Regions from separate parts of the Homo sapiens genome. Here region 2 is linked to region 1. Evidence: fine-mapped expression QTL. A gene starts in region 1. The other region holds a variant in brackets. All regions are shown on one strand. Distances are from middle to middle. Region 1 holds the start of CARS2 (cysteinyl-tRNA synthetase 2, mitochondrial). Region 2 overlaps CARS2 (cysteinyl-tRNA synthetase 2, mitochondrial).

The links. PIP is the estimated chance that this variant, and not a neighbour inherited with it, causes the effect.
Region 2: its variant is fine-mapped to the expression of CARS2 in whole blood (TOPMed, PIP 0.95).

Annotation. Positions count from the first base shown.
Region 1 is chr13:110,699,252-110,711,627 of GRCh38, forward strand. CARS2 (cysteinyl-tRNA synthetase 2, mitochondrial) reads right to left here and starts at 6,865. Exons shown (of 15, transcript NM_024537.4): 1 at 6,619-6,865; 2 at 6,270-6,320; 3 at 2,187-2,304. The coding sequence starts at 6,842. RefSeq lists a silencer at 6,673-7,232 and enhancers at 7,283-7,662, 7,673-7,792.
Region 2 is chr13:110,644,748-110,657,123 of GRCh38, forward strand. CARS2 (cysteinyl-tRNA synthetase 2, mitochondrial) reads right to left here. Exons shown (of 15, transcript NM_024537.4): 10 at 6,287-6,353; 11 at 2,354-2,492; 12 at 1,220-1,343. Among named protein-coding and RNA genes, the nearest start is that of NAXD-AS1, 35 kb to the left of the region's middle. RefSeq lists an enhancer at 4,341-4,840 and silencers at 8,584-8,673, 8,714-8,773. The variant A/G (reference allele first, on the strand shown) is at 3,705.

The DNA.
Region 1 (12,376 bases):
ACAAACACCGTCTAATGCTCTTGGAGGGTCAAACTGCCAAACAGCAGCCCACCACTGGACAATCCACAGGTGGTCTCCACAAAAAGCAGAGAGAACAGGGGTGGAACAGGTGCTGACCATGGACGCCGGTGACAGGTGCATGGGTTCATATGCTCTTCTCTCTACTTCATGTATGTTAGAACATTTCCACTGTAACACATGCTGGTAAAAGCAGTGGTAACTGGCAAAGTATCACAAGACTACATCTCGTCTACATCAAAATTAGGTCAGCTTTACTTAAATTCCTTCATCAGATTCAGGAAAAGGAAATAGCCAGTCATCCTAACTAACACACAAATGAATAGACTGTCTTGTATGCTAAACCACAGTGAATTGTGAAAATGGGCAAAAATGTCCAGAGAGAATGGTGATTAGAGGAAGCACCCGCAATGGAGAAAGCCGACACAAGACAGCATGTGGGGCAAAGAGTGACAGCGTTTCATCAGAATGGCTTCTTTAGGAAAAGTCTTCCTCACCAGCAGTTAAAGTCAAAGGACCCACCAAAGCCCTTCCGGTAGAAGTGATGTGCGGGGCACTGGCCCCCAGCCAACAGGGAGAGCCCGAGGAGGCGCCTCCAATGTCCCACCTGCCTGTACAACCTCATCCACTGTGTCTTCCCAAAGCTTGCCAGGCACCACACTCCAGGTGTGGGCCAGACTCCAGTGGGGCCCTCAGCCTGCACGGGAAAGAGACTTCTGCTACCCGCCACAAGTGCGCAGGCCATTCCCACCTGGCAGGGGTACTTGCCCAGAGATAGCTGAAGTCAGAGCTGTGGGAGTGGCCCTGCCCCTGAAGGTCTGTGCAACCTCAAGATGTGATCACCTTAACCTCTTGACTCTTCTGCAAGATGGGGACACATCCAATGAACCTGAGTGGAGGGCCACCTTACAAAATCAAAGTCCTACAATCCTTGACAGTGTCAAGGACATGAGACAGGGAACTACTGAAGACTGAAGGAGACCGAGGAGACAACAGGACTCTGGAAGGGGTTCTAGAACAGAAAAGAAAGAGGCGCTCGGGGACAGGGACAACACCTGGGGTTGACGTCCATGTCACCCACACCAGCGCACTGCATCAATGTCCGGTTCCTGACTGGGAGGGCTGTGCGGGCCTCGAGAGCCAGTGACCTTGCTCTGAAGGCACGCGTGGCGTGTGCAGAGAGGGGAGGCGGCCTGGTGGGAAAAGTCTAGAACAGAGAGAAGATGATGGCCCAACGCAGCCAACAATGGCCACGAGGAAACCCAGGGTGGCTGCAGGAGATCTTTGTACTATTCTTGTCATTTTTCTGTAGATCTCAAATCGCTTCAAATAATTTTTTAATATGGAATAAAATGTGTTAAAAAAAGCACAATAAGGTCTGCTCTGCGCAGCACACAGGGTTGTTCTGAGACTGAAATACTAATAGATACAAAAAGTACTTTTTAAACTATCAAGACACAGACATGAAAGGCATCATTAGCACAAATATGAATACGTCCAATCAGTGGGTCTGGTTCCCTCAGTAAAGAGAAAGTCAAGTCATTTCCCTTGGAGGCCGAGGGGCCAGGGGAGGGAGTAAGATTGGAGCCAGGAGACGACCACAGAAGGAGGTAACGACACGAGGCCACAGAAAAGCCTTCAGCGATCACAATACGATAGATGTTAACTTCCTTTACTAGGGCACCAAAGAAACCCTGCTAACCCAGCACTGTTTCATGTCTCAGATTACACCCACTGGCCACACATGGACAATAAGATGTGAGAACTACTTGTAAAATGCAAACAAGAACCACTTTCTTTTTTCTTTTTTTTTTTGAGACAGAGTCTCCATGACCCAGGTTGGAGTGCAGTGGCACAATCTCCGCTCATTGCAACCTTCGCCCCCCCAGGGTCAAGCGATTCTCCTGCCTGAGCCTCCTGAGGAGCTGGGATTACAGGAGCCCGCCACCACACCTGACTAATTTTTGTATTTTTAGTACAGACAAGGTTTCACCATGTTTGTCAGGCTGGCCTCAAACTCCTGACCTCAAGTGATCCACCTGTCTTGGCCTCCCAAAGTGCTGGGATTACAGGCGTAAGCTACCACGCCCGGCCAAGAACCACTTTCAGGAAGGGCTCAGAACACTAATCAATGGCATTATCAATAGATGTAACTCTTCTCCACTTACCTCATTGGCTCTTTTGATGATTTTATCATCTACATCTGTAATACCCATCACCATGACTATGCTGCATCCAAAAACCTTGGTTAGGATCCTTCGAATGATATCAAATCTAACATATGAGCTGAAAGAAAAAAAGTGTCAGGATGTCTTTATTACACAAAGTCATCAGTTATCTTTGTAAAAAATCCATTACATTTTAACATGCTGCTCCATAACTTCTACTGTGTAGCACAATGGACAGGTCAGCGGAGCAGGTACAAGGAAACTCCCTCTCACTGATGGCACCAGGGCCTGCGCCACAAGGGTTCTCAGGAGAAACTGACAAAGGTATTGCATCAATTTCAGGACACAATATTAGCATTTTTAATTTTGGAGTTGTTGCTTAAGTGAGTTGAAGTCTATTTAATTGTATAAAAATTCACTCATAATACAATCTCTCAGTTAAGATCGTGTTTTCACCATTCTTGTTCATGTTCTAGAGTAATTCTAATTTTTCACTATGACAAAACAGAAGCAAATACCAAATCAAAACAAGTACGATCCCATTAAAGCCATATAAGATTACTCCTAAGAATGCACACACTAGTGTAGAATATTTAAAAATGCCAGCTTATTTATATACTACACTGGGGTAATTCAGACTTGTAAAACTAAAAGGGTTTAAAATCTACTTAGCATCTCAAGAATCTGTTTTCCCATAAAAGTTACCTTAAAACTCAAGGTTATCTAATGTCACACTCACCTCTGCTATCCATGTGGCCTAAATTTCAGTTCGTAAAATTGTTTTCTCTTAGGGTGGTGTGGGGGAATCCTAGCCATGTTATTGTATCACTTTAACCTCCCACACACCCCCTCCCTCTCCAAACACAGCTGAGACCAAATCTTGATTCCAGGGACAAAACTATCTCCAAAACTCAACAAGATAATTAACCTCTTACAGCTCAGTCGGCTTGCTTATAAATTTGGCAAAATCCCACCACCTAACAGGACTGCTGTCCAGCCTTACCGCCTGTGCAGCATGAATTCTAAAAACACAAGCTATTATTACCATTCTCATCACCATGCTCCTTCATTCACCTCAAGTTGGGAAAGAGTCTAAAAGATGTGAGATTTACAAGAAAAAAATTACAGGAACCTAAAGCAAATGAAAACAAGAGTCAAGTCCCTTGCTTGGCCCAGAGGAGCCCAGGCTGAGTCCCGGAACTGCCCTTGGAGACAGCAGAGGCTCCACAGCTTGGCAGAGCTGGCGGAATGCAGGGTCATGAGCAATTTGAGACCCTGAGACGCTGCAGGCAGGCTGTGACCACAGGGGCCACTCTATACACAAACACGCACACACACGCCTTGCAAGTGCCGGGCAGCCAAGTCTGAAGAACATGGCATCAGGAGACCTCAGCTTGCTTCTGTGACTCCACCATGAACCATGCTACCGTCAGCCCGGCTCTTTCTGCCCCATTTTCTCCATCCACTGGGTGAGTGTGCTCATCTGGGTGATCGCTGAAATGATTCATTTGCTAAGAGTCTTCCCTCAAAACGCTCCAGTGTGACTCCGTCTACCATGGCATGAAATCCAAACTCTCTGGGCCAGACCACGCAGCACCCTCCCCAGTCTGGCTGCAACTGACGCCCCATCCCTTCCCCTGCTCCTCCCCCCTAGCACCAAACTGATCTATTTGTTTTCCCCAAACAGGGTTTCCATCCCTCTGACCTCTTCTGGAAATGGTGGAGGCTATTTTTCAGGGTGTCTCTTTCCAGTGAACTGAGTGCTACCCATTGCTCAAATTCTACCTTTCTGCAGCAGGCACTGTGTGCATCCCTGTCCTGCTGGAGCTGAAATAATTACATCATGCTAACGACATCAGATGGTTGCATAAATAACCACTGAAGGAGTACAATGCTAGGAGAGCTGAGATGGGGAGAGGGAGGTGGGGCAGGCCAGCCCAGCAAAGGCCTGGAGGGGTTGGCCAGGCTGACAGGAAGGTGGTCAACAGGAGAGTCCCAAGCTCCCACCAGCCCCTGGGAAGGCCCTGTGTGGACACAGCTTATAACATGCATTCAGCTGCGCACTTAAGATGTGTATTCTTTTCTGTAGTCATAAAGGTAAATATTATACAAATTTAAACTGCAAGACTTGACTCTCCTAGTTGGAAATGAGAAGAGATTCTCTCCCCAACAACTTTTAGGATTTCTTCCTCAGTCCTCTTCAAATGCATGTCAATCTTTTAAATGGCTAAATAAACCTCTTGGCAGTTTTACAACTCAAGAAAATTTCAAAACCTGGGACCCACCTCTGAAATGTAATCAAGGAAAATAACGCCCCGTTTCCCAGTGTCCTGGGAGGAGATGGGCCTACCTTGTCATCTGACTCCACACTGTAACTCACCTGAAGCAATGGGTTATGCTATGGTCTGAATGTTTGTCTTCCCTCCAAATTCATGGTTGAAACCCTAACTCCCAAGGTGACGGTTTTAGGAGGTGGAGCCTCTGGGAGTGACAAAGTCATGGAGGCAGAGAGCTCATGACTGGGGTTAATGCCCTCATAGAAGAGACCTCAGAGAATTCCCTCTACCTTCTACCATGTGAGGACACAGCAGGCAGACCCTCAACAGACACCAAATTTGCTGGTGCCTTCATCTTGGACTTCCTAGCCCCAGAAAGAAAGAAATTTCTGTTGTTTATAAGTCATCCATTTTAGGATATTTTGTTACAGCAGACTCATAGACTGAGACAGGCTGTATCCCCAAAGCTCCATAGAAGGATGAGATTTCTTTCTGTCTTTGCAGTTATTTTAGCTCATCCCCTTCTGGTTTAAGGCTTATTCAGTAACAGAACTGTTTTCTTTCTCTTCTACCTTTGTGGAAAGGTTTTCCAGGGTGGGGGTTTTGTTTTTAATATTTCCCCAACATATTTTATAATTCAAGAAAGATGTCGAAATATGCTTTTGATAATTAAAAGTATGTTAGCCCAAAGTAAAGGGGAAAAATGTATATTTAAAGTATACAGAGTATGCCGGGCATGGTGGTTCATGCCTGTAATCCCAACACTTTGGGAGGCCAAGGCAGGTGGATCATTTGAGGTCAGGAGTTCGAGACCAGCCTGGCTGACATGGTGAAACTCCGTCTCTACTAAAAATACAAAAATTAGCCGGGCGTGGTGGTACATGCCTGTAATCCCAGCTACTCCGGAGGCTGAGGCAGGAGAATTGCTGCCAGGAGGCGGCAACTGGACCTGGGAGGCAGAGGTTGCAGTGAGCCGAGATTGCACCACTGCACTCCAGCCTGGGCGACAGAGCGACTCCGTCTCAAGAAAAAAAAAAAGTATACAGAGTAAATGTAACTTTTTACTTTTAGTCTAGGACTGAACAATACTAAGTTTTAAAAAATCTATAATATGTCATTTTTGTACATTATATTTTGGAAATGTACAAAATATTAGGAAAAGTGGTAATTTTGGCAAATGTAGGAGGCAGTACATCTTACAGTTAAAGAGGTCAAGAGAGCAACCACTTCGCAGTCAGAGAAACCAAGCCTCACCCCAGTTCCAATACCTCTTCAATGTGTCATCTTAGGAAAGTTACTCAATCACTATTGAGCCCCGTGACATCTCACATGTGAGGTACAGTGTTAAGCAGCATTTTATGGGCATTATTTACTAAAATTGTTATAAGATCCAAGTTATCATTCCCATCTCAAAGATGAAGAAACCAGGACTCAAAGCAATAAAGTGACCTGCTCAGTGCTGTGAAGCTAAGAAGTGGTGGGGCCCAGGAATGACTGATCAGCAGGACCCCGGGACCCCGCAAAGGCCTCTTGATGTCACTAAACCCAGCAAAAAACATCTAGTTCCAAAACGGGTCATTTTTCAGTGCTCCATTGTCTCCCTGAGTTTCCTCACCTGTAAAACGGGTGTAAGTGCTCAGAATCCCTATAAGAACCAAATGAGGTTGTAACATTTCCCACAATGCCTGGAATGTAGGAATTATTCTGCATCCCTAAGTTGCCACTTAAGAGATAAAAGAAATCAGCAAAAGGCTTTCAAAAATAAATGGTCCTTTGAAGTATGAAAATTCAAATCCAGGAAACTCACCAAGCATGGCCAAGGTGCGCATGATCATATACAGTTGGTCCACAGCTATACCTGGAAACAAAGTTAAAATCCATCGTGTGGAACATATTTGCAAGAAAGGACATTCGATTCTGAGTTATAATGATCATATAATTTTTAAAGTAATCACTTCTGGGGGATGAATAGCCGGGGTTTTCATACTTGCTCAATTCACACCCAAACCTGCAAAAGCACCGCGCACCCCCAGCTTCTAGAACGGCGCCCTCCATGCAGCTTCCTAAACGCCCTCCCCGAGCCCAGATCCCGTTCAGCCGTGGGAAGTCTCCGCCACGATCGGCCCCCGCCCGTGCCCCAGTCCCGCGCGGCCCACCAGGAGGCGGCTTCGGCGTGCGCCACGATTAGGGGTTCCTTCCTCCCGGTGAGGCTGTTGTACACCTGCACACCCGTCTCCCGGCCCGTGGGCTGCAGCCAGGCCCGCCCGCGCCCCCCGCTCGCCGCCCGGCCCGCAGGCCAGTGCCACCCAGCCCGCCCAAGGCCCAGCGCGGCCTGGAGCAGCGGGGGGCCCAGGCCTGGGCCGCGCGTAGTCCTCAACATGTCAGCGGCCAGCGCCTACGACTGGGCGGAGACGGGAGCCACGCCGGGTACGCTGCCGGTCGCTCAAGAGCAGCACGGCCCCGCCCCGCCCCGCCCACGCCCTTGGGGCCACGCCCACTCCCGGAAGCAGTCCTCAGGTAGCGCCTCCCTTTGGCCTGGCTCGAGTCGCCCGCGGCAAGGGTGGAGAACCAGGGCCCGAAGAGGTTGGGGCGGGGAAGGCCCGGGGTGGAGGGAGGAGGGCGGTGCCGCGCCGGGAGGCCGTGGGAAGAGGCGGTACCGTGCCGATCTCCTCTCCTTATTAGCCCAGGTCCTGCGAGGCGTCCGTGTGCGCGCGGTACCAGCCTGGAGCTGTGTCCGCCGCGCGGGAGGAGCGTTTACAGTGCAAGCTTCTGTTGCCGGGCCCTGGCCTGTTAGCGAAGCACGTGTGCATCCCAGCACAGCCCACGTCAGCACGCTAATACACAGTGTCCACCCCAGAACACACGTCAGCACCCCAATACAGTGTGCACCCCAATACAGTGTGCACCCCAAACACACATCTGCGCCCCAATACAGTGTGCACTGCAGCACACCGTTAGCATCCCAACACAGTGCACCCCGATACACAATGTGCAACCCAACACACAGTCTGCACCCCAAGAAGTGTGCACCCCAATACACAGTATGCACCCCAGCACACACATCAGCATCCCAATACAGTGTGCACCCCAATACAGTGTGCACCCCAGCACACACATCTGCACCCCAATAGTGTGCACTGCAGCACACCATCAGCATCCCAACACAGTGCACCCCGATACACAGTGTGCAACCCAGCATACAGTCTGCACCCCAATACACAGTATGCACCCTAGCACACACCACATCAGCATCCCAATACAGTGTGCACTCCAATACAGTGTGCACCCCAGCACACACCATGTCTGCACCCCAGTACAGTGTACACCCCAATACAGTGTGCACCCCTAATACACTGTGCACTCTAACACACACCATGTCTGCACCCCAGTACAGTGTGCACCCCAACACAGCACATGTGCATCCCAGCAAACACTGTCTGCATTCCAATGCAATGTGCACCTCAATAGAGTGTGCGCCCCCACACATCTACACCCCAATACAGTGTGCACCCCAATACACAGTGTGCAACCCAACACACACCATGTCTGCACTCCAATACACAGCATGCCTCCCCCACCATGATCCCGTATCTTGAGAACAAAAACATTCTGAAAGTTACTCACAATAGCTTGACAAACGTGCCTCTATTGGGCCAGGCGCAGTGGCTCACACCTGTAATCCCAGCACTTTGGGAGGCTGAGGCGGATGGATCACCTGAGGTCAGGAGTTCGAGACCAGCCTGACCAATATGGTGAAACCCCGTCTCTACTAAAAATACACAAATTAGCCGGGCGTGGTGGCGTGCATCTGTAGTCCCAGCTACTGGGGAGGCTGAGACAAGAGAATCGCTTGAACCCAGGAGGCAGAGCTCACAGTGAGCTGAGGTCACACCACTGCACTGCAGCCTGGGCAACAGAGGGAGACTCCGCCTGAAAAAAAAAAAAAGTGCCTCTATTGGTGTCTTGCAATACGATGTCTCAAAAAAAAGAAAAAGTCCCCTTTGCTTTTCCAGTTCTCAAAACAGGAGACGTTCCTCTGGTTTTTTGTTGTTGTTTTTAGTTTGCTTTGGTGTTTTATTAAAAAGCAAAGGTTTAAGTAGAGACAAACAAGTGTGTACCTAGAGTAGTTTCTCAATATCCTGGAGTCCAACTCTGCAATTCTGTTTCAAGCTAACTGTAGTCTAATGTAATCTATTGTCTAATTTAATAAGGTTAAAATGTTAGAATTAGGAGACCCTATAGCCTACATCAATGCTAACCACTCATGTTACCTAACTACTCTAAATTCTCCTGAATATTATCACTTCTTGCCTGCCTTATGTTATTTTGTAACTTTCCAGTGCTGTGTGTATATTTATCTCCCTGAGTATCTTAAATTGTACATTATTTTGAACTTCTCACTGTGCCCTGCACTAAATTCAGAAAAGGACTTGGGTTTTGTTTGTTTTGTTTTGCTGTGGCTGGAAAAAAAAAATTTAGAAGAAATAAAAGGGCTTGTTGAATGTTGATGAATTAATCCCTTACGAAAGGGATTAATTGTGCAGGTGGGAAGAAATCTGGGTAGTAAAATACCTGATAAAGCTGATTCAGATATTAGATGTGCCAGTAAATAAAGCAAATTAACAAAAAGCTCAGTTGCAATCTGTGAGAACACACGAATTCAAGGAAATAACTGGAGCAGAGATTCTGAAAGCAGCTTAGTAACACTGAAGATCAAATCTGCACATGAATCTGGACATGCGGTATATTTGAATTGTTCATAGAACATCACAACTTTTAAATTAACAATAGTATCTTCTGTCTTCAGAAAATTCATGTAATGTTTTTAGCCCCTCACTGGCAGTGATTCTATTATGTTTTCTTTTTTTTTTTTGAGGCAGTCTTGCTCTGTCACCCAGGCTGGAGTGCAGTGGCCTGATCTGGGTTCACTGCAGCCTCTGCCTCCTGGTTCAAGCAATCCTCCTGCTTCAGCCTCCACAGTAGCTGAGATTACAAGTGCACACCACCGTGCCCAGCTAATTTTTGCATTTTTATTTTTATTTTTATGTATTTATTTTTGAGACAGAGTCTCACTCTATCACCCAGGCTGGAGTGCAGTGGCACGATCTCGGCTCACTGCAACCTCCACCTCCCAGATTCAAGTGATTCTTCTGCCTCAGCCTCCCGAGTAGCTGGGATTACAGGTGCGTGCCACCACGCTCAGCTAATTTTTGTATTTTTAGTAGAGATGGGGTTTCATCATGTTGGCCAGGCTGGTCTGGGACTCTGGAACTCCTGACCTCAAGTGATCCAGCCACCTCAGCCTCCCAAAGCGGTGGGAATACCGGCCTAAGCCACCACACCTGGCCAATTCTCTTTTCTCTTTTTTCTTTTTTTTTTTTTTGAGATGGAGTTTCACTCTTGTTGCCCAGGCTGGAGTGCAATGGCGTGATCTCCTGGGTTCAAGCGATTCTCCTGCCTCTTTCTCACGTCTCCCGGGTTCAAGCAATTCTCCTGCTTGTCTCCTGAGTAGCTGGGATTACAGGCATGTGCCACCATGCCCAGCTAATTTTGTATTTTTAGTACAGATGGGGTTTCTCCATGTTAGTCAGGCTGGTCTTGAACTCCCGACCCCAGGTGATCCGCCCACCTCGGTCTCTGAAAGTGCTGGGATTACAGGCATGAGCCACCGTGCCCGGCAGCTAATTCTGTTTTCTTAAGGCTTTTGCGGATCATCAAAACAAGGAGAAACATAGCTCATTACCTAATGATGGTTAGAAATGTGATCTTTTTGCATATTGAATATCTGCAGGTTGAATATTAAGGTAAAGTAAAATAGACTGCTAATGCTCTTCATTACTATACCTCCCAGCCTACATCTTTCTCCTGTGCTGGGTGCTTCCTGCCCTCGAACATCAGACTCCAAGTTCTTCAGTTTTGGGACTCAGACTGGCTCTCCTTGCTCCTCAGCTTGCGGACAGTCTATTGTGGGACCTTGTGATTATGTAAGTTAGTACTTAATAAACATATATATGTATATACATTATATATATCTATATCTCCATCCTATTAGTTCTGTCCCTCTAGAGAACCCTGACTAATACACCATATATACATAAAAAGAGGATCCATTTAATTGAAGTCACCTCCCTCTCCAATCTAGGTCAGAACGAGGAAGTGTGTTAAAGTTAATGATTCCAAAATATCACTAATGCCATTTCTCAGTCCTTAATGACAACAATAACAAAATCAAGTTCTCAGTATTACATTTTCTTTCAAGGCAAAATCTTGTAAATCAGAAGTAGAGTTGATTACGGTAGCATATGGTTTAGGGGTTTTCAAGTTTAAGATGAATGAGTTTGCATTTATTTTTTAAGCACTTTGAAACTTAAACAATTCTATGCTTGGCCAGGCGCGGTGGTTCACGCCTGTAATCCCAGCACTTTGGGAGGCCAAGACAGGCGGATCACCTGAGGTCAGGAGTTCGAGACCAGCCTGGGCCAACATGACAAAACTCCGTCTCTACTAAAAATACAAAAATTAGTTGGGCATGGCGTCCGGCACCCGTAATCCCAGCTACTCAGGAGGCTGAGGCAGGAGAATCGCTTGAACCCGGGAGGCGGAGGTTGCAGTGAGCTGAGATCACGCCACTGCACTCCAGTCTGGGTGACAAGAGCAAGACTCCGTCTCAAAAAAAGAAAAAGAATTATATGTTCATCTCTTATATCTGACTCTCATAGGTTTGAGCATTTTCAGTTAGACTGGAAATATAATTTTAGAAAAAAGTTTAATTTTAAATGTTTCTTTTTAATCCATTTGAAATTTCTGTTCTACGGAAAAGTTTTAACATCCATTTTTGCAACACGCCACAGGAAACAAAACTGAAAGAGACAAGATTCTTCAACGTATCTTCAAAATTAAGCACCTTTCTTCAATGACATTTAAAATTCGTTATCAAAGGTAATTATGTTTTATTGCTTGATCTTCTAAGTTTGTTCCAAAAAAGATAAAATCTTTTTTGACTTTTTATCCCAAGGGGTGGGCTAAAAGTTTTATGGAATGTAAAGCTCCAAAAAACTTTTCACTACTGTATCCCCAGCGCACGGACCAGTAGTTGGCACATGGTAGACACTCGTCAATATTCCTTGTTGAATGCTTAAGATGCCTTTTTGGTTTATGTGTATGTGAAGAGAGTACATAACTAGAGGAACAAAATCATTACTCAGATTGTACTGTGTTGTGATTTTTTTTTTTAAAAAGAAAACCTAGGTTAAACTCCATCTTATCTTTGTAAAGGGTAAATTACTTCCAATTTTATTCTTGAGTTCAGATAAACACTATTCATTCTAGAGCCAATGAATGCTAGGAATAGAAGAACCGGTCTATTTCTTACTATTGTACTTTTAAATTACTTATATGCTTTTTGAGGGAAAGGCGTAATTTTCCTTATTCAACTTTGTACTCCCTCTATACTCTGTATTCGACATAATGTTTGTTTCCACATAATGTTATCTTGTCGTAGTCTTTTTTTCTCTTTTTTTCCGGAGATAGTCTTGCTCTGTCGCCCAGGCTGGAGTGCAGTGGCACAATCTCGGCTCACTGCAACCTCCCCTCCTAGGTTCAAGTGATTCTGTCTCAGCCTCCCCAATAGCTGGGACTACAGGCACGCGCCACCATGCCCTGCTAATTTTTTGTATTTTTAGTAGAGACAGGGTTTCACCATGTTGCCCAAGCTGGTCCCGAACTCCTGATCTCAGGCAATTCGCCCGCCTCGGCCTCCCAAAGTGGTAGGATTACAGGCGTGAGCCACCGCGTCCGGCCAAGTGTTATAGTCTTTTGTGCAGACCAAGTAGTGGCCAATAAATCTTGTAGAAACTAAAGTACTCATTTGCTTTTAACTAGGCCAAGACTAGAATAGCGTGATCTGTAAGTAAA
Region 2 (12,376 bases), 55 kb before region 1:
CATGACCGTGGAGTATGGCAGGTGGCGCATGGTAGGTGGAGGCTGAGTGGGCACTGGGCTGGGTTTCTCAGAAAACGGGGAAATCCTGGTACGTGGCTCACATCAGTTACCAAGCACAGAGACCCTTGGGTGACACTAGCCTTAGTTTGCAGGTGCCCCAGAATTGCAAAGCTTGGGAAGGAAAAGCGCAGGACAAAAGCCAGCCTCTTTACTTGTCCCGCCCCTTGCCACAAGAGGCCCCTGTTGCCCTAGAGCTGGGCCAGCCTGGTAGTGCCGGCAGCAGCTGCGGTGAAGGCAGGAGGCCGCGGACGGGCTGAGGAGGAGGAGCTCCCGTGCAGGAGCAGCCTGGCTGCGGGACCTGCCCCAGCCCGGCCTGGCTGCCTTCAGTGCGGGGCAGCCTGTTCCTGCAGCCGGCTGTGACTCAAATGCCCGCCCCCCTCAGAGGCGAGCCCTGCGCGTCTGCAGTATTTGGACCGAAGGCACCCGGCAAGGGCACATGGCACCCTGCCCCACCTGCTGGTGCTCTGAAACCCAACACTGCACGCAGCCAGGGATGGAGACCTCCACAGAGATGCTCAACTAACAGAGCATGTGGCCAGAACCCCCAGGTGTTTCCAGAGGTGGGAGAGGCACAAACAGCCTCGGCTTCCCGGGTCATCAAAGGTCACGGGGCTCCTGACGCAGCGCCTCCCAGGGCCTGGCAGGGGACCCTCAGACGTGCAGGAACCAAAGCCTGCCGCCGCCTTCACGGTCTTTGTCCCACCTGCCAAACACTTGCAGTGACCCACGAGTCCAGGCTCAGACCCCTGGGTGCTTGGTGTGGTCATCACACTGGGGTGCAGATTGCATAACAGTGCCTTGGGGTAAATGGGTCTTTCCTTAAAAAGTTCCCCACAAAAGCTCTCTCTGTGAAAGGGCCATGAATGCAGTGGGGACATGAGATGTGTCCCCTGAGGATCAAGCACACAGAATTTCTCAGCCTCAGGGGCTCCTGAGAGCTTGTTCCCCAGGTGGCCCTGAGGCCCGGGAGGGTCAAGCCCCAGGCTGGGTGCCATCCCGTGTGTCAGCGGCAGACTCGGGCTCCATGAGTTCCTCCACAGAAGCTGCGGGAGGCGAAATCAGCAGAGATGCCACCCAGCCGACATGAGAAAAACCCACCAGAGGACCCGACCCATGCCCCTGGCAGCAGGACCGCAAGGCCACCTGTTCGTTGAGCTACCTTCAGGGACGCCCTGAGCTGTCCATTCCCGTGGTGTGCAAGGCCCAGGATGGCATCAACCACCCTGGGTGTGTCAAAATCATCTGCCAAGGCCGCCTTCACGGCCCTCTTGGTGCTGGAGAGCCTGAGGGAAGAGGAGAGAACAGTCACAGCAGAGGGAGCTCCACTCTCCCCAGGCGGCCCCCACACCAGTCCTTCCCCAGGGAGAGACGCTGGGGGCTCTAATCTGGGGACTTTCTCTAGGTCATATTCCCAAAGACTTGAGTTCCTGAGTAGCAGAAAATTATGTAACATCAACTGCAAACTGTCATGTTACCCCAAGAAAAAGTCCCAGAGCAGAGGTCACCTGTGACACTTAAAATACAAGACACACGTGGGCATTTTCATGATGGTTTTAAAAATCAATAGATATTGAGGGGAGTGGCAAGGAAGACTCGGTGGGGGAGAGACGGCACGGCTGACCACTCACAAAGAGAGGCTGGGGAGGCCCAGCCCGGGGCTCCCGGATCTCAGCCTCCCGTGGCCACTGGCTGCCTACCCTGCTGAAGTGGCAGGGGTGGGTTATCACCAAGACCATCCGGAAGACTCTGCATGCCGGGATGAATGTGCAGCGCTGCCCAGGACACCCGTGGGTGGGGAGTGGAGGCGATGCTGTGGGCCCAGGCCTGTGTGTTTTATAGATTTTGGCTCCTCACAGTCAGGACTGGGAGGGATGAGCAGCTCCGCTCCTCGCACAGGGAACCCGAGCCCAAAGCCACTCTGAGCAGGGGGCTCAGAGCCCGAGGGCCCCAGGCACACTTCCTGCCAGCGCCGTCTCCCTGGGATGTCTCGGGAGCCCCTGACCCCACACCTCCTGTCCAGCACCCAGTGTCCTGTGGCCTCTGGGGAGCCCCTGACCCCACACCTCCTGTCCAGCTCCCAGTCCCCTGTGGCCTCTGGGGAGCCCCTGACCCCACACCTGCACCTCCTGCCCAGCACCCTGTCTCCTGGGGCCTCTCTGGGCAGTCCCTGACCCCAAACCTCCTGTCCAGCGCCCTGTCTCCTGGGGGCCCCTCTTCCCCTTCAAGAGCCCACCAGCAGCACCCAGCAGGCCACAGGAGGGGTGCCACGCCGGGTGCTAGGCGGGCCTCTTACCTCTCCCACAGCATCGCTTCCCTGACGGAGCCGCAGGCCAGCTGCCCCTTCATGTAGGCACGTGCGTCCTCCAGGAAAGAGCCCAGCCCCAGGAGCAGCTGCTGAGCTTGGAGCATGGCGCTGTCACTGTAGTCGATGGCTGAGGAGGAAGAGATGGTCACTGAGGCGGTGCCCACCATGCTGTGCCCCTGCCCTGGTCCAGCAGAATCAGTGTTTTCTGAGGGCACTGCCACCCAGGGACCACACGGAGAGCGGGACATGTGGCTCTCACGCCCTCCAGTGACCGCGAGTCCCTAGGCCCACTGGACACAGACCACAGGGTCTGTCCCAGCTCAGTGGCACCTGCCGTGGGAGAACAAGGTGGCGGTGGAGACATGCTCCCAGTGCTTCCAGCCAAGAGGTGCATTTCCACTGACTGGATGGAGGTGCGGATGAATGGCTGGCTCTGGAAAGAAGGAGCCCCGCCCTGGATGGATGGAGGTGCGGATGAATGGCTAGCTCTGGAAAGAGGGAGCCCCGCCCTGGGGTCAGAGGCACCTCTAGGGAAGGCCCTCCCGAGGGAAAGTGCCTGTGTGTGATGGGACAGCCCAAAGAGGGAGGGAGGAGCAGTCCCCAGACCTGGCTTTAGAGTCTGTGGGTGTTTCTTAGGCCACCTGGATGAGGGGCCAGTGTTTCTGTTTACATCTGTTCATTTCTTGTGGTTTCTAGTCTACTGCATTCTGATGGGTAAGACAACAGGAGTGAATCGCTTTGCAATGATCACATATCCTTGGATATCAGCAAAGCCAGCCACATATTTCTAGAACCTTCTCGTGCCTACTCTGTTTCCCAGGCTGTCTGAGTCCACAGTCCATGCTTTTGAGGAGTGCTGCTTTAAACAGCTCTTTGAAAACCACAAGAATAAAAAGAGCCTATCTGGACACATATGCTGAAAATTACATCTCAACATGCCTCCAAGTCCTGACTTCAAAACGAGAATTCCAAAATCAGACATGGCTTCAAGCTGGAAGCAACACAGTGAAAACCTCCCCCAGGGCTGTCTAATATCTTACTTAACATTTTTCCTTTTTTTCTAAATTCACTTTCAGTTTTTGCTTTGAATAGCTTGATAGAAAAGAGAAAAAGCCAGAAACCCACAAAGCGATCTGACAAAATTTAAAGATAATATTCGGGGACTGATAGAGTTGATGCATGGGAGGCTGTTAGAATAAGATTACCATTAATGACACAGCAAGATGAGGCATCCAGATGGGGAGGGGCAGACAGATGCCCAGGATGGAGACGCCTTCTGCCTCAAGGTCAAGGACAGCTGCATTTCTCCAAAGAGGATTCTGCTCTACAGATGGGAGAC[A/G]CTTCTCCAAAGTGTCAGCGCAGCACAGACTGCAAGGGATGCCACCACCGTCCCCCTCCATCTTCCCAAAGGTGAAGAAAGAATGTCTGGGAAGATCCCGAACTCCCACACCATTCGTGGATGGAAGCTCAGACAGCAAGCGACGGCCCAGCTCCTCAAGGCCACCTCCGACCTCGGCGGGGTGGGGCAGTCGTGTCCACTGTGGGGATCCACGTCCTGACTAACCTTGTGTTCCTAGAAATCCCTCACTGGCAGATCGGTGCCTCCTGAATCCCACCCAAAATTCCCACTGGGAATGTGTTCCTGAAAGAGCTGCCCAGGCTTGAGAAAGCCTCTTTTCAGACCAAACTTCGTATTCAAAGCTCAAAAAGAACTGCACACAATTAGGACAGTCATACAAGATGCTGCCCCTAATCCTGCCACAATCTGCGAGAAGGGAGGCGGGGCTTCCGAGGGCAAAGTGCCCCTGGGAAGGGATCCGCAGGGAACAGCTTTGAAAGGACCACAGCCCCCAGCCACGAGGGGAGCAAGCACGAGCCGGGAAGAGAGCTCTGCGCTCGCACACGGGATTCATCTCCGCCGCCTCTGCCCGTTTCCAGCAACACGGAGCCAGGCGGAAACAGTTTCTCCAGCCCATTCGCCTCCCCGACTCTTCCTCTCACGGCACGGCTGGGCTGCTTTCATCACGCGTAAGTGCACACCACACACAGATGCTGCACGAGGCCAGGCGAGCACGAGGCTGGCCACACTTCTTTCTCAAGCTCGTGCGCCCGTGAGCGCAGGTCCCCTGGGCCGATGCACTGCAGTTCCACCCAGGGGAGAGGTTCAGACCACGTCTCAGAAAACCTGAGTTTGCAGTAGAAAGCCAACGACGTGGCGTCAGAGCCAGGATAAAGACATGGCCCAAGGTAGCCTTTCGGTGGTCAAAGGTGCAGGTGTCTGTGTGCCCCTCTCACGCTGACAGGAGCTGCAGGCCGGGTGAAATTCTGCAGGCACAGCACAGGGGAGGGAGATGGATAGGGGACCAGCCCAGGGGCTCACCCAAACCCACCAAAGCTTTGTGTGTGACATAAAGTGTGCTGGCCAGATAGATTCACCCCATGGGGGAATGAGAATAAACTATGTTTCGGCTGCATGTCCCCACTCCCATCGTCTTCATTAAAAAGGTGAAATCATCAATTTGGAGCAAGAGAGCTACGTAGGAGGGACAAGAAGGGGGAGAGGGAGGTGGCATGACAACAGCAGCGACCCAGGGCCTCGGCAGTGTCAATGGAGCAGAGGGGACACCAGAGGCCAGAAGGACAGCAACCCTCGCTCACCAGGAAGGAACTGTCACCATCTCCAGAGGACACTGGCCCTGCTCCTGCAGCACTAGCCATACACTGGGACCTTATTGCCAGTTAGGTGGTCAAGCCAGGCAGGGCAGTATCACTGTCCCCAGCCCTCACTTGCCACCAGGGATGCAGCTCTGGATAACGACTTTTTTTTTTTTTTTTTTTTTTTTGAGACAGGGTCTTGCTCTGTTACCCAGGCTGGAGTGCAGTGGTGCGATCTCAGCTCACTGCACCTCCGCCTCCTGGGTTGAAGTGATTCTCCTGCCTCAGCCTCCTGAGTAGCTGAGATTACAGGTGCATGCCACCAAGCCAATTTTTTTGTATTTTTTTCAGATGGAGTCTTGCTCAGCCACCCAGGCTAGAGAGCAGTGGCATGATCATGGCTCACTGCAGCCTCTGCCTCCCAGGTTCAAGCAATTCTCCTGCTTCACCCTCCTGAGTAGCTGGGATTACAGGCACACATCGCCATGCCTGGCTAATTTTTGTATTTTTAGGAGAGATGGGGTTTTACCACGTTGGCCAAACTGGTCTCGAACTCCTGACCTCAAGTGATCCACCTGCCTCAGCCTCCCAAAGTGTTGAGATTACAGGTGTGAGCCATCGTGCCAGGCCTTTTGTATTTTTTGTAGAGATAAGATCTCACTATGTTGCCCAGGCGGGTCTCAAACTCCTGGACTCAAAACATCTGCCAGCCTCGGCCTCCCAAAGTGCTGGGATCATACACGTGAGCCACCATGCCAGGCCAGTGCTAGACAACTCCTGGCCAAGAGCCTAGCCCGGGGCAGCAGGTAACTGTGCAGCATGGGAGGAACCGTCATCACCCATCCAGGAGACCTTGCTCTGCTACACACCGTTCGGGGAAGTGCTGCCCCTGGGCAGGACAGGCAGGGTCACGTTTGAGGGCTCCCATGTTCAGGGGCCGTGCCAGGCTGGCCCCTTCCAATCTCCCAGTTCACACAGCAGGAAGCCGAGGTGCTGCGGGTTCACGACTTGTCCAGACCCAGAGAGAAGGAGTGGAGAGGACTCGAGCTTGACGAGGAAGCCCACATCCACTGTGGGCCGGGCCCAGACCAGCACTGGGATCCCTCGTCCTCTGGGTTCACTCTCAACCCGAACCGTAAGGCACACAGCAGCCTCACTCAACAAGGTTCTGCTTATTCTCTGGCCTGCATTTTGCTGTTTTCAGTCCTGTCAGAATGACTGTCTCCGAGCTGGGGGGGGAGTCCACTCCACGTGTGCTCGGCTCACCTGAGCGGTAGCTGCTCCGCAGGCAGAAGAACCGGAAGACATCGGGGGAAAAGGTCTTCAGAAAGTCCTGGTAAAGCGAGAGACAGGCAGTCACGAGGCTTTGCTTTTACGCTTCGCACTGTTCAGAGAATATGTTACTTTCTACAATTACATAAGTTATCTCTACCTATCAAGAAATCAGGAACCTTGATGAAAATGAGCCCTCCAAACTCACAATTACCACCTGTTTCCTGGTGATTTCCTCACTGAACTTTCCACGTTCGATCTCAGTATTTGTGGAAAGAGCAAGAAGAGAAAGCCGGTTTGCACTGAAAATCCGCACCTGCGCAGGCTCCAGGAGGAGTGTGTCCTGTGCTCAGCCTGGGCTCTCTTTCTGCACGACAGGGACGTGGGACAGACAGCATGGAGCGATGCTGTGCTCAGGAAGAGACCAGGTAGGTGGCGGGAGGCACACCAGCTCTGGCCTGCCTGCAACCCCCAGGAGAAGCTTGCGGTGAACGTCAGACCCGGCTGACCTCCAGCTCAGCCCAGCCAAGGGGCGACAGCCTCACTCATCCTATTTGGTGGCACAGTTCTTGTAAACACTGGGCTAAAGCATGCGCTAAGTCTGTCTCTTGAAGACTAAACCACCCAGCTTCTGGTTAAACCTAAGTAAAACTCAGAACCCAACCGGTATCCTCCTATAGATCAATTAGAAAACGTCTGTCCAGAAAGAAGTGGAGCTTTCTACATGAGGAAGCTTAGAAGAGGTCATTAGAGGCACTGCAAAAGCAGCTCAGCCCTCAGCAAAACCTCCTGTGGGGCGCTCAGGGTTCAGCTCTGGCAGCTACTTTTAAGAGATGAGATGAGTGGGGGAGAGAAGGAAGAGGGCTCTGCCCAGCTTGGGCTTCCACTGTGGCCCCAAGAAAGAAAGCCGAGCTCCGACTGCACCCCTGGCCAGGGACGCGCTCCGACGGGAGCCCGAGTGGCTCCTTGCCTGGATCTGCAGCACATGGTGCCGGCTCTGACCAAAGCCCCCTTTCCTGCCACCACCTCAGAAGACAGAACTGGCTCACCCCATGCCTGTCCACTGCGCAGGAAGCTGTCGCTGACCTTGCTGGAGTGAGAATTGCGTTTCCGTCTCCCTCGGGTAAACCCGATACCCTCTTCTCTAGGCTGATGGGCAGCAACACAAGCCCAGAGCACAGGGGCTGACACCAACCCACAGTCTGCACCCGCTCATCAGAGCTCAGATACCCACTTCCTCTGCAGGGTGGTCGTGGGAGCACAGAGCTGCCAGGGAGAGTGAGCCGGAAACGGCGGAGTCCAGCTCAAAATACTGCATCACAACACATGGTATTTTATGAGGCATAAAAGACCAGTCTAAGGCCGTGCTGCTCAACAACCCTACTGAGAGCAAAACACACACAACTGAAGAGCGTCTTGGGGTAGAAGGGGCTGTCCCTGCTTCAGGCTTCAGCGGCCTCGCCCACCCAGTAGAAAGGAGGGGGCTCCCTGGACTGCTGAGCTGGAAGGAGGAGGACACTGCTCCACCTGCCTCCAGGGCTCAGTCCCTTCAGAGGATGGAGCAGGTCTGGTCTGTCTTCTACCAGGAAGGAGCTCAGCCCCCACCCCACAGCCCAACTCCTGTCTGCCTGTGCCTGAGGCAGTGAGGGGCATTCTCATGTGGGGTGGCGTTAATCAGAAAGCTGCTGGGCCAATGCCCTAACACAGGGGTGCTCAACCTGGGGTCCACAGACCTCCTAGGGGCCCACAGAGAGAAGGTGGGAGGGCGGGGAGATCTGTGAACTGGGATGGTTCAACAGTTATGTGTTTATTTCTGCCAGCCTTGCACCGAAATGGGTATTTCCTTCGATGGTCAGTGTAGGCAGCAAACGCATCTGGAAGCACAGAGCCTGGCATGGTGGCCACAGCTGCCACAGGTGACCCCACAGGGATGACATCACACACCACAACTCACACGAGAGGATGGCAGCCATCAGACCCCACCCACGCTGAGCTAACCGCTGAGTCAAGCAGAGCCCCCGCTCCTCTACTTCAGTATCATCAACGGCCTTTGGGATCCTATGTATTTTATTTTACGTATTTAAAGCAAATTGTAAGGCTGGGTCCACAGACTTCACCAGGCTGCCACAGGGGCCTGGGGTGGGGAGGGGGGCTGGGGTATGTGTGTGTGTGTGTTTGTGTGTGTGTGTGTGAAGAGCCCCTGTCCAATCCAACAGTAGTTCATCAGTAATCACACTGGAATTCCATTTCCGTCTGTCCATCTCCCGGGTGCTCCTTCCCAAATTGTGAAAAAAGGAATATTACTCCTGGGTCCTCTAATTCGCAACTCGCAGGCTTACTTGACACCCTCCCTCACCCGAGGTGCTGTGGTTCCAATTAACGCACACAGCCATGTCCTGCCGGTTTCAGTTCAGGTTGCGCCCTATTTAGGTCTCCGGGTTTCGGTGTGGAAACACCACTCCACAAGCAGCCTCCACGCTCCCCACTTCATTCCAAAAACGATTTCACCTGGCTTTCTCTCAAAGGGGTTTTCCTCTCAGAATGTAAACGCATGCAGAATTAGCCTCAATGTGTTTTCACGCATCTCATAGTTCTCTGAAACCCCAACAACATTAAAGGCTTATCTTCCCTGCTCTTGCGGGGGCGGGCGCTACTGCAGCGAGCTATAGTAGTAGTTCTAATAGAAATCTGGAATCTAATCTTTCTAGAGCATTGAGTTTATACGGACTAAAGGAGAAACATATTATAACTTCTTCATTACACAGTATTCTGACAATGATGTGAAAACTCTTGAATACTGTGGGTGCACACGGACATTAATTTTTTAGCGTGTTCCTGCTCTGTGCCGGCTGATATCAGCAAGTTTCTATACTACTCCGGTTCCACCGTGCAACCTGCCACGGCTCCCTGAGAGGCAAAATGTGGCGACGGCAGTGTAAGCTCGTGCTGGAACTCTCCAGGAGGTAAGCAATCTCCCAGAGCCCAGGCCGGAGGACCGGATTGGCCTTCAGGTGGGGATGGTAACAAGCCATGTGAGCCCCAGTGAGCTCACGAGGTAACAGGGTGCACACTCACAGGGAGCCCGCTGGGTACACATGCCAGTTGCCGAGGGACTTCCTATGATGCCAGCGCTGCACACACCCCTGGAGCCCCTGGGCAGAAGCAGGCACCAGAGCCTCTCTACTGGGCCAGGCCCTAGCTTGCTTTGAGACGTACAGTAACTAGAAAGCAGGTTTTAAACCATTATCTGAGCTCCAGGGTTGAGCTCTTTCTACGTGGACTGTGGCCTCCATTACGCAGAAAGCATTGGGTTTTCACCCAGGCTATCATAAAGGTCTATCAGTGGTCTCCAAGACAAAGAGGACTGGCGGGAAAGGGTCTTATGCTAGAAACCAGGAATGTGGCAAGTATTTTTAAGATGTAGGGCAATAACTTAACATCTCCAAGGAACTATGGGCTAGGGTAGGTGCGAGCTACCAAAAATATAAATGAAAAATCACCAGTAAATACATATAGACAAATCAACACAGCAAATAGACAAACGCATGGAAATTTAAAATCTAGTTGCCATTCTTCACAAATTAACAAGAAAAATGGGCCAGGTGCCGTGGGTCACACCTGTAATCCCAGCGCTTTGTGAGGCTAAGGCAGGAGGATTGCTTGAGCCCAGGAGTTTGAGACCAGCCTGGGCAACATAGTGAGACTTCGTCTCTAGAAAAAATACAAAATCAGCAGGTGTGGTAGTGCATGCCTGTGGTCCCAGCTCCTCAGGAGGCTGAAATGGGAGGTTTGCCGGAGCCCACAAGTTCCAGGCTGCAGTGAGCTAGGACTGCACCAGGTGCCACTGCACCAGGTACCCAGGTGACAGCAAAACCCTCTCTCAAAAAAAAAAAAAAGAAAAAGAAAAAAAAAGAAAAAGAAAAAAAGGAAAAAAGGTAACCTGATTAAAATTCTAATTTGATGCTGGAGAGACCTGGGAAACAGACATTTTAATCTACTGCCAGTAGGAATGTAAATCACACTCGTTGATAAAGTCACCAGGGGCTCTATCCAAAACATTCCGAATGTGCCCGTATCTTCTGATGTGCGATTCTACCTCAAGGCACTTTTCTCAAGTCACTAATCATTAGATGTGCACAGATATTTAGCTAAAGGATATTCATCACAGCACTGCAGCCTGCAGAGTACAGGTCTCACAAACAAGCCCAACAACAGGGAAATAAAATCACGGTGCCTCCCTGCCATGAGCCACTAAGAGGCTGCTAAAAATAATGCAGACATGGCAATGTCTGTGAAAATTGAAAATGCACATACCCTAGTGGAAAATACAGTAGGATTTAAATGACCATCAATAGGGGATTCTTTAATTAAGCTGCACCCACACACTGGACTACACAGCCATTCGAGAGAATGAACCAACTCCATATGGTAGAAAACCGACTGAGGCCAAGAGATTAATCAAGCAAGCGCAAAACTACACGACTGTGTGTGAAGGGAAAGTGAGAAGCACAGCTATAGGGAGATGTGTGCACACACACACCTGCTCCGAGAAAACTAACCGCTGCTTCAGGAGAGAAGCCGGGCAACAGTGAACGTGGTCGGGCAGGAGGCCTGCTTTCCAGACTTAGTACCTTTGAATTTTTCTACCGTGTGGTTCTCTGTCTTGTCTGCAGTTTTCAAACTTTCTGAAATTAAACCCATCATGTCTATAATCAAATTAAAACCTCACTTAAATTGTTAGGGAAGAGGCGGCATGCATACGACACTGCCTCATGAATGAGACAGAGGAGAAAGGTTTATGTGTATTGGCCTATCGTGTGTAACGGAACACAGGAAGATGAATCCAAAACAGAGAACACAACTGTGGCTGCTGGGGAAGGAATGGGTGCAGGCGGGCTCCAGGCCAGCCTTCTCCATGCTCTCTTTAGTGTTAATGCTGAACCCTGCAAATGTTTCACAGATATGACAAATAAAAGTAAATTGGGACTGGATGCAGTGGCTCACGCCTGTAATCCCAGCACTTTGGGAGGCCGAGGCAGGTGGACCTGAGGTTAGGAGTTCAAGACCAGCCTGGCCAACATGGTGAAACCCCATCTCCACTAAAAATACAAAAATTAGCTGGGTGTGGTGGTGTAGGCCTGTAATCCCAGCTACCTGGGAGGCTGAGGCATGAGAATCACTTGAACCTGGGAGGCAGAGGTTGCAGTGAGTTGAGATCACACTAATGCACTACAGCCTGGGTGACAGAGCAAGACTCTCAAAAAAGACAAAACAAAAAGTAAATTGAAAAGGGGAAGAGAGAGACCACCACACTGGAAACAAACAGAACAAATGAACCTCTTGTGTTAATGAAAGGAGATCATTACATGCCGCGAGTGTATGTTCAGACCACAGAGCTTTAGTGGGGTGCAGTCCACGAGAAAAAGAAATTTCAGTCCAGAATAGGTGAATCACAGAAACAGAAAGTAGATGAGCGGCTGTCGGGGCTGGGAGGAGGTGGGAGTGAGAAGTGATGGCCCATGGATGTGGCGTTTCTTTTTGGGGTGATAAAAACGTTCTTAGAGGCCGGGCGTGGTGGCTCACGCCTGTAAGCCCAGCACTTTGGGAGGCCGAGGCAGGTGGATCACAAGGTCAGGAGATCAAGACCATCCTGGCTAACATGGTGAAACCCCGTCTCTACTAAAAATACAAAAAATTAGCCAGGCGTGGTGGTGGGCGCCTGTAGTCCCAGCTACTCAGGAGGCTGAGGCAGGAGAATGGCGTGAACCCGGAAGGCGGAGCTTGCAGTGAGCCAAGATTGTGCCACTGCACTCCAGCCTGGGCGACAGAGTGAGACTCTGTCTCAAAAAGAAAAAAAAAAAAACGTTCTTAGATAGTGGTCGTTTCACAACTGCGAATATCTTACAAACCACTAAGCAGTACCATTTAAATAGTATACTTATATAGTATGTGCATTACATTTCAATAAAGCTATTAGTTTAAAAAGAAATAAGAGAAGCCTTAAGTTTTACTCAATAGTTTTACTGTTAATGGTAATATTGGTATTAAGTTTTTAAATTTATTTTGTGTGTATTTTAAGATAAA